2 linked regions of the Homo sapiens genome follow. The protein of the gene in region 2 interacts with the protein of the main gene of each other region in a biochemical or structural test. Each region holds a gene or a part of one and is shown on either strand. Other genes may lie near its edges.

Region 1 (4,771 bases), on a different chromosome or scaffold from region 2:
AACTGTGTTGAGGAGGAGCTGGGACCTGGGAATGGCAGGTGTCCGCTGAGGGGAACCGTGTGGGGGAGGAGCTGGGACCCTGGAATGGCAGGTGTCCGCTGAGGGGAACCGTGCAGGGGAGGAGCTGGGACCTGGGAATGGCAGGTGTCCTCTGAGGAGAGCTGAGCAGGAGAGGAGCTGGGACTCGGGAATGGCAGGTGTCTGCTGAGGGGAACCGTGTTGAGGAGGAGCTGGGACTTGGGAATGGCAGGTGTCTGCTGAGAACTGGGTGGGAGAGGAGCTGGGATCCGGGAATGGCAGGTGTCCGCTGAGGGGAACCGTGCAGGGGAGGAGCTGGGACCCTGGAATGGCAGGTGTCCGCTGAGGGGAACCGTGCAGGGGAGGAGCTGGGACCCGGGAATGGCAGGTGTCCGCTGAGGGGAACCGTGTGGGGGAGGAGCTGGGACCCGGGAAATGGCAGGTGTCCTCTGAGGGGAACCGTGTGGGGGAGGAGCTGGGACCCGGGAAATGGCAGGTGTCCTCTGAGGAGAGCTGAGCAGGAGAGGAGCTGGGGCCTGGGAATGGCAGGTGTCTGCTGAGGGGAACTGTGTTGAGGAGGAGCTGGGACCCGGGAATGGCAGGTGTCCGCTGAGGGGAACCGTGTGGGGGAGGAGCTGGGACCCGGGAAATGGCAGGTGTCCTCTGAGGGGAACCGTGTCGGGGAGGAGCTGGGACCCGGGAAATGGCAGGTGTCCTCTGAGGGGAACCGGGCGGGAGAGGAGCTGGGGCCTGGAAGGCCAAGGCAAGGGCTGTCTCCAGTCCACGCTGCACCCCAAGAAGGGAAGTGTGGAGAGGTATTGACTGGTGGCTCAGTAAAATGGCCTGGAAGTGGCCTTGGTGATTCCAGAATCTGCCAGCTCACTCCCTTTGGCACCGTGTCCTGCTGTGTCCAGGGCGGGCAGGTCCATGCTGCTCTGGGTCCAGGGAAGGTCTGGGAAGAGTGGCCAGGGACTTGGAGGGCCTCTCAGGTGAATGATGGGAGGTGGCTGGATGCAGGGATGGCCAGTGCGGGTCTGCATGGGGCGGGTATCAGATCGTCTGGTGTGTGTGTCCCTGATGAGGTGGGAGGGGGGTGCCAGGTGGGTGTTCGGCAGCTGTGGGCACTGTGAGGTGGTGGTGGGGGGAGGCTGCTGGGACATGATGACTATGGGAGGGTGTGAGGTGGGCAGGCGCCTGCGGGGGCAGGTCCCAGGTGGAGAAGGTGGCGTGGTGTCTTGCTGTCTCAGGCCCTTCCTCTGTGCATCCACGTAAGTGTGGGTAAGCCAAGAATAGCCTGGGTTCAAATCCACCTTTGCCGTTAATTGGCTGTGTGCTGGTAGACAAGTTACTTAGCTTCTCTGTGCCCCCACTCCCTCATCTGCACGCGAGAATTGTAACAGAGCCTTCCTCAGAGCGATGATGGTGTTTAGGATGACATGCGCTGCACAGCAAGTCCTGGCCGTGGCGGCTGCCATTGCAGCCCGTGGGGTCACCCTGGAGGCCGTGATTGCTGATGTTGTGCTGTTCTTGTGCCTTGCTCTCTTCTTCTCGGTGCCCCCAGACTCTCTCTGCCTTCGGAGGACGGCGTCTCTCTCGCCTCACACTGTGTGCACGGGCAGTGCGGACGGGTGCTGGCTTGGTCTTTCCAGCCCTGCCTCGCTCGGGGCCTGCTGCATCGTAGCTCAGGCCTAGGACCCATCTCTGTACCTGCAGGTCTTGGGTGCTGCCCGGCATGAGTGGAGGAGTTTATCAGAACAGGACCTTTTATAGGAGGTTTTAACTTTAGAAGGGAATAGAAAAGTGTCATGGCAGCAATATTTATTTCTAGATCACCCTGAGTTTTTTTTCTTTGTTTTGTTTTATTGTCCTCTTTACACCATGAGTTTTTAATGATGAATGAGTGAAGGAGTGACAGTGCGGGTTGAGCATCCCTTATCCAGATGCTCCAGAATCGGAAACCCTCTGACACCGATGTGGCACCTCAGGCATAGCTGAGCTAGTGACACCTTTGCTTTCTCATGGGTCAGTGTACACAAACCTTGTTTCATGCACAAAATTATCAAAAGTACCGCACAAAATTACCCTCAGGCTGTGTGTATAAGGTGTATATGAAACATAAATGAATTTCCTGTTCAGACCTGGGTCCTATCCAAACATATCTCATTACGTATATACAGATGTTCCGAATCAGAAAAAATCCACAGCCCTTCTGGTCCCAAAAATCTCTTCTAAGGGACACTCAGCCTGTGTGACGTGGTCGGTGACTCCTGATGGGAGGTGGCAGTGCTGTGCGGCGAGTGGGGACCTTCGTGTCACATCCCATCTGTGCCTCAGGGCTTGGATGAATTACTTCTGGCTGGACCTTGTTCCCTTTTCCACACAGTGAAGAGGCTGGGTTAAATGATCTCCAGTCAAGGTGATTCAGAGTTAGCTGGAAGGTGTGTAGGGGGAAGTTGGAGCTTCCTGGCCTTGCCCCAGACTTACTAAGTCAGAGTCCCTGGGAGGTGCAGGGGCTTGGGAGCAGGCGTTCTTACTGGTAGCCCCGATGGTGTAATGGAAGTTCAGCTGGAATCCAGTACCCCATGGTCTTCTAAATTTCACTGTCTGTTCTGCTAGCTTTACTATTAATTGATACAGTTTTAAAAAAAATTAAACTATAAGCTGAACTTATGTGATTATTTTGGGAGGCCAAGGTGGGAGGATTGCTTGAGGTCAGAAGTTTGAGACTAGTCTGGGCAACATAGTGAGACCTCGTCTACAGAAAAATTAAAACATTAGCCAAGGTTCACTGGGTGTCTTCTCCTTGGCCCCTTTGCCCACGTGGTGAACACTGTGGACCTGTGAGGGTGTGAGGGTTGCGTTCCTGCGTTCTGGACTCTTTACCCACTACTGAGAAGCAGCCGTTTGAAATATGAGTTGGCAAGGAAGATCAGCATGTAGGCTTAGACCAAGACGGTATGTGCAGCCTCCTGAGCTAACTGGGCCTGTGCTTGAGCCCAGTGATGAGCAGCCTCAGCAAGAGGAACCACCACCTGAAAGTCGGGGTCTTACCTGGCCAGGAGAGAGAGGAAGATCACGGTGCTGCTGAGATTCTTGTGCTTGACCAGGAAGCTGATCTCCGGGAGCTGTCTCAAAGACTGGGATGAATGTGGAGATGGTCCTGATGTCCGGGGAATATTCTGCCGAAATCAGAGCAATTTAAATTGCCAGAAGGAGGTGAAGGGCAACCACAGGTTCCAAGGAAGACAAGCTGAAACAATGCAAACTGGTTTTATATTAGATACGTGACTTAAAATATCTCAATACAGTTTTCTCCAAAAAAAAAAAAATAGTTAGCCGAGTATGGGGGTGTGCTTGGTATGGCTTGAGCCCAGGAGTGAGTTTGAGGCTGCACCGAGCAATGACTGTGCCACTGCACTCCAGTCTGGGCAATGGAGTGAGACCCTGTCTCTAAAAAATAAAAACAAAGAAACGTGATTATAGATAATAAGATATTACTTACATGAGTTACAAACCATTTCTTTTTAATAAGCAGAGGCCCATGACAGTAAGAGTCTAGTAGAAAAATTGGGTGGACTGCATAGAAGACATTGTCCATCATTATGTCACACAGTGTGAGGCGGATGGTGCGAATAAACTGGGAAGTCATGTCTTTCATTGAGGCAGCATCTATTCCTGTTTGGAAGAGAAAGCCGAGAGGTGTTCTGTTCCCCGAGGAAGCCATCAAGGCTTCATGACCTGCTGTCCTGGGGCTGTTCACAGTGATAGCTGGCACTTGCCGGGAACAGCAGCACCTTTGTTGTGTGACAGATGCTTTTCTGAGCGTGCTTTAGTGAGACCGTTTCACGCATGTCCTGCTTTCCCTCTCCCCTCACCCGTGACAAAGTGATTCCCCCTTGTATTTGTTTCCTGGGGTTGCTGAAAGAAATTACTGCAAACTGGGGGGCTTAAGACAACACACATTCATTCTCCTGCGTTTTCGGGGGCCTCGTGTCTGCAGTCAGTGTGACCTGGCTGATGGCAGGTGTGGCAGAGCTGGTTCCTCTGGTGACTTTAAGTCTGCTTCCTTCACCTTTCCGGCTTCTGGAGGTGACCGCCTGCCCGTCTGCCTGGGCTCGAGACCCATCCTTGAATCCCTGCAGTCTCCGCATCCTTCCTCATGTGGCCGTCCCCTCTGGCTCTGACCCCAGGCTCACACAGGCGCACCCCACACTCTCCCCATCTCTAGAGCCTTCACGTGGTCACGTGGATGGGAGGAGCCATCCAAAAGCTTGGGAGTGAGGATGTGGGTGTATCAGGGGCCATCAGCCAGCCTGTCACACCTCTTAAGAAGATCGATCCCCAGACGTGTTTCTTGGCCAACTTTTACATTTATTTATTTATTTTTTAATGATGATTTTTAATAATTTTTAATTATTAAAAAATTATAAAATAATTTTAATTATTTTATTTTTTAAATTCATTTTTTAATGATTTTAAATAGTTAAATGCCCAGTCCTAATATTTAAATTATTAATACAGTACTACTTAGATATTGAGTAATGTAATTTATATTCATTTTTTACTCTTTTCCATCAAAACATAATTTTACTAAGTACGCATGTTCTGTGTCCGTGTTTTGTCATCACTGAAGCCACTTTTGGAGTCACCTAGTAATAGCCTTTCCACTCTATCTAGTTCTGTAGCTTTTATGTGTGTAAATTACTTCAAATCTGTTTATGATCCTATTGCTGGAAACTTTATCCCAAGACAC
Region 2 (5,239 bases):
ATAAGCTAAAATTTCTTTTTAATACATATGTCAATAGATTTTCATCAAGCTAAAGAACAGCCATTTTCCCTGAAGGCAGCATTTTGGTCAGTTCCACATATGGTTATCATGAATTGTTGGTCATTCAGGTACTTTCTGTGGTTTTTGTTACTGTTTTTCTTACGCTGACCACACACAACTGTGACACCTCTGGGTAACAGAACCCAAGAAAGTCTGTGATATGTTTGCTATCCCTTTCTGTGAATGCTCACTTTGTGTTTATTAGAATTAGATTTGTACCTTAAGAACCCAATGTAGATTTAATGAAGGTTTATCTGTTGTCTTTTTGAGAAAGTCCTTATGAAGGCAACTTGGGTATGATGTTCTTGTCCATGTGTTGTATTGAATTGAATATTTGTTTTGTGTTTCTTATAATCCACTGGAGGCCCGTAGCAGCAACACTTGCTGCTTCTGTTTAGAGCAGGGGTCCCCAACCACTGGGCCATGGACCAGTATTGGAGCATGAACTCTATTGTGAACTGCACATGCAAAGGATCTAGGTCATGCACTCTTATGAAAATCTAACTAATGCCTCATGATCTGAGGTGGAACAGCTTCTAATCATTCCCCACCCCACCCTGCTGCTGGTTTACAGCCTTAACCATCCATCAAGGTTTGAAGGGAGATTCATACTTGCTTTTGGAGACTTTCTTATACTTAGTCCACAGTCGCTGTTCTCAGGAGTTAATGGGAGGAGCCCAAAATTTTTCAAAAGAGGTTGGGTCTAATTTGTATCAAGTGGGACTTATGTCAAGTAGCGAAGCAATAAAGATTGTTCATCTCTTGTAAACCGTGATTCTTTTCTTCTAGCGAGAATCAGTCAGGGGTGGATCCATCAAAGAATGGGGAAGACATGATACTTCTGCTTGAATGTGGACTTGGTAGCTCCAAAATGATCTCCTTTGTTATTGGGATGGTCATCAATGCTTGAAGGAAATTGCTGTGGTTGTGATGGGGAGTTGAGTAGAATATAATGCATCTCACTACTAGAGAGTCCATCAGATGTCCCTGGTCCTCCTGGGGTTGTCTGTTATCATATTTAAGAGTTCACTTCCCATCCATTGTGTCCATTTGTAAGAAAGGCTCTCCAAAAGAACATAATAGCAAGTTTACACATACTGTTGAGCCTATTTACCATAGGGATCTCAAAATCATAGGGGTCCTGCCTGTTTTGTTGTGGTTGTTTACATTCTTTGTGTCTATTTCTATATACTGCACAGATTATACCATAAAGCTATTTTGTGATAAGAAGAATTGAGAGAGACTGAAACCAAATCTTTCTCTCGAGCTACAAGTTTCTCTGAAAATAGAAAGAGACCTACCCATATTTTTAAAAAATTACACCTGTTATCCAGTTCTAGCTATAATGGCAACTCATAAAATCTTAGAATTTTAGATTCAGGTTACATGGGGAAAGTGAATATAGTCCTCCCTTGGTATCCATGGGGGTTGGTTTCAGGACCCCAGTGGATATAAAAATCCATTATAAAATGGTATAGTATTTGCATATGATCTATGCACATCCTCCCATATACTGTAAATCATCTCTAGATTTCTCATAATACCTAATACAATATAAATGCTATATAAATTGTTGTTATACTGTATTTTTACTTGCATTATTTTTTATTGTTGTATTGTGTTGGATATTTTCCCCTAATATTGTCTTCCGTGGTTGGTTGTATCCTGGATGCTGAGTGCGCAATAGGGAAGCCTAACTATTAGAAACCAGCTGCTATGTAACATTGGCCTCTAGGAAAAAGTGTCTCCTGGTCAAACAAGTTAGGGAAACCCTGTGTCCTGCATCTTCCTCCTTCTGGATATTAACAATGAAAAGTCAACTGTAACTCAGCATTTTCCAAACTTACTTGACCACCGAGTCTTTTTTACCCTATATAATAGCTGTTAACATCCTGCATGTAGGAAATGAGTCCAGTCACACCGTGGAGGTCCAGAAAATTAAGCCACTTGCCTGAGGTCACAAAGTCAGTAATGACAGAACCGGGGCGGGACCCCACTGCTGGCTGATAGCCTCTCTCAGAATGGCTTCAAAAGGTGTTCAAGATTATGTTTCTTTGAAATTGATGTAAAGAGTGATTTCTAAAGTTGTAGGATCCTAGTTTAATTTGGAGAGATTTATCTGTTAGCAGATGGAAAATGTGTCAGTTGGCCCATTCAATTTAGTAGTACTCTTTATTCAGATGCATCAGAAATGGGACCTGAATCGTATGCGTGGTGGAGAACAAAACGTTCCTGAGGCGCTCAGTGTGAGGGGTGGGAACGGAGAAAGGCAATAAGCAATTAAACAAGTAGATATGTAATTACAAATTATGATGCGTGCTATGTATGTGCTGTCAGATTGAACTTAAATTTGCAGTCTTTTTTTAATTGACCCAGAACTAAAAGGAATCAATAGCAGTTGTTTTTATGGTTATCTGAATACTCAGCTCATAACGACTGTTTGCACCACGTGACAGCCTCTCCCCTTCTTGTTTTTCCAGCCCAGTGGAGCAAAATGAGAGCGCAGTGAGCCGGGCCCAGCTTCTCTCCTAGCCGTTCCGACTCCCACCATGAACCACTTGGAGGGGTCTGCGGAGGTGGAGGTGACCGACGAGGCGGCAGGTGGGGAGGTGAACGAGTCGGTGGAGGCCGACCTGGAGCACCCCGAGGTGGAAGAGGAACAGCAGCAGCCGCCGCAGCAGCAGCACTATGTGGGCCGCCACCAGCGCGGGCGAGCCCTCGAGGACCTCCGCGCCCAGCTCGGCCAGGAGGAAGAGGAGCGCGGGGAATGCCTGGCGCGCTCAGCCAGCACGGAGAGCGGCTTCCACAACCACACGGACACCGCCGAGGGCGACGTGATCGCCGCGGCCCGCGACGGCTACGATGCGGAGCGCGCGCAGGACCCCGAGGACGAGAGCGCCTATGCTGTGCAGTACCGGCCCGAGGCCGAGGAGTACACGGAGCAGGCAGAGGCCGAGCACGCCGAGGCCACGCACCGCCGCGCGCTGCCCAACCACCTGCACTTCCACTCGCTGGAGCACGAGGAAGCCATGAATGCGGCCTACTCAGGCTACGTCTACACGCACCGGCTCTTCCACCGCGGTGAGGACGAGCCCTACTCCGAGCCCTATGCCGACTACGGCGGCCTCCAGGAGCACGTGTACGAGGAGATAGGGGACGCGCCCGAGCTGGACGCACGCGACGGCCTGCGGCTCTACGAGCAGGAGCGCGACGAGGCGGCCGCGTACCGCCAGGAGGCCCTGGGCGCGCGGCTGCACCATTACGACGAGCGCTCCGACGGCGAGTCCGACAGCCCCGAGAAGGAGGCCGAGTTCGCGCCCTACCCGCGCATGGACAGCTACGAGCAGGAGGAGGACATCGACCAGATAGTGGCCGAGGTGAAGCAGAGCATGAGCTCGCAGAGCCTCGACAAGGCAGCCGAGGACATGCCTGAGGCCGAGCAGGACCTGGAGCGTCCCCCTACCCCGGCCGGGGGTCGCCCCGACAGCCCCGGGCTGCAGGCGCCGGCGGGGCAGCAGCGGGCGGTGGGCCCCGCGGGCGGCGGCGAGGCGGGGCAGCGGTACAGCAAGGAGAAGCGCGATGCCATCTCGCTGGCCATCAAGGACATCAAGGAGGCCATCGAGGAGGTGAAAACCAGGACCATCCGTTCGCCTTACACCCCCGACGAGCCCAAAGAGCCCATCTGGGTCATGCGCCAGGACATTAGCCCCACCAGGGACTGTGACGACCAGAGGCCGATGGACGGAGATGTAAGTAGGTGCGGGTTTGGGCTTCCTCGGCCCCACGCGGTGGGAGGGAAGATGGCGCCCCATGGCCTTGTGTGCCCTTGGGTAGTGACTTTACGGGAAGTAGTCTGTGGGGACGCTAAGAACTTTTCCACCGTAAGCCTCAGAAACAGCTTGCACCTAAACTGTCAAACGCCAGCGGGAGAGAATTAAAGTGTTGAATGCACTCATCAGATTCTTAGCAGGATGGCCTCAAATCAGTGCTTCCCACACTGTGCCTGGAGACCTTGTGAGAAATGCATTATTGGGTACATCGCCCTCCACCCCCCGCCCCCCCCCCCCCCAGTTTCTGATTCAGAAAGTATGGAGTGGGGCCCGAGAATTTGTATTTCTAATGCCAAATAAAAAACAAGCCATGCTTGAGGAAGGAGAGACTTCACTGGAAAGGATTATTGCAAAGGGGAGAAAGATACTGTTTCGTTTTAGGGAGGAAGGACTGTTGCCATATGAGAACCTCTGACCTTAAGATCTTTAAGGGTCTCTAGAGTTAGGTACAAGGGGGAAGTTGTTTTATAGGGAGGAGTAGCCAAGTAGAAAGAATAGGGTATGTGAAAGTGGCATGAAAAGGGTGGGAGTTGAATGTGCTGTGGATCAGAGAATGTTTCCACCTGAGACCAGCGTTTTCTCAGGAGTGGTTGTATGCTGGCCAAAGTTCACGCACCTGGAGGAAGGAGAGACACTTAACCAAAGTTTGGTTAGCAAGCAGTTCAGCTGATCGTTTGTGAAGAAAGAATGGGAATGTGGAGGGTCTGCGTCTGGCCTTGTCATAGGAAAACAAGAGGAGCATCCCTATCCCTGCTCTGTGTCAGAAAAGAAGGAGTTTCCCAGAACACAAAAGGTTGGGGGTATTTCTTCATTTTGTTTCTCTGGTTCTCAGGTAAAGTTCAACGTTGTCACTAACAAGTTCTCATGCGATGCTCCTGGTCCCAGGACGACAATTTGAGAACTGCCTTATATCAATCCCTTGAAGATCTGGGATGGGTAGTGTGCCCTCTTTGGAGGATAGCCTTCCAAGCCTTTTTCCGCCAGGGGTTTCTGCAGTTTTGTTTATTTGTTTTGTTTTGTTTTGTGACGGAGTCTTGCTCTGTCACCCAGGCTGGAGTGCAGTGATGCAATCTCCGCTCACCGTAACCTCTGCCTCCCAGGTTCAAGCAATTCTACCTCAGTCTCCCAAGTAGCTGGGATTACAGGCAGGTGTCACCACGTCCAGCTAATTTTTGTATTTTTTAGTAGAGACGGGGTTTCATAACGTTGGCCAGGCTGGTCTCGAACCGCTGGCCACAAGTGAACCACTCACCTCGGCCTCCCCAAGTGCTGGGATTACAGATGTGAGCCACAGCACCTGGCCGGTTTCTGCAATTTTTTTTGTTTTGGTTTGGTTTTTTGAGACAGAA

Evidence for each region. Proteins that work in one complex are often made in the same cells at the same time.
Region 1: the proteins of APBA1 (region 2) and RGS12 interact in a test that uses a peptide from one of them, tested with the Homo sapiens proteins (one large-scale study listed by IntAct).

Annotation. Positions count from the first base shown.
Region 1 is NC_000004.12:3,309,583-3,314,353, forward strand, and holds part of RGS12 (regulator of G-protein signaling 12), read left to right. Parts: intron 1-4,771. UniProt on the Homo sapiens protein: Regulates G protein-coupled receptor signaling cascades. Inhibits signal transduction by increasing the GTPase activity of G protein alpha subunits, thereby driving them into their inactive GDP-bound form.
Region 2 is NC_000009.12:69,514,581-69,519,819, reverse strand, and holds part of APBA1 (amyloid-beta A4 precursor protein-binding family A member 1), read left to right. Parts: intron 1-2,540; 5' UTR 2,541-2,609; coding exon 2,610-3,809; intron 3,810-5,239. UniProt on the Homo sapiens protein: Putative function in synaptic vesicle exocytosis by binding to Munc18-1, an essential component of the synaptic vesicle exocytotic machinery. May modulate processing of the amyloid-beta precursor protein (APP) and hence formation of APP-beta.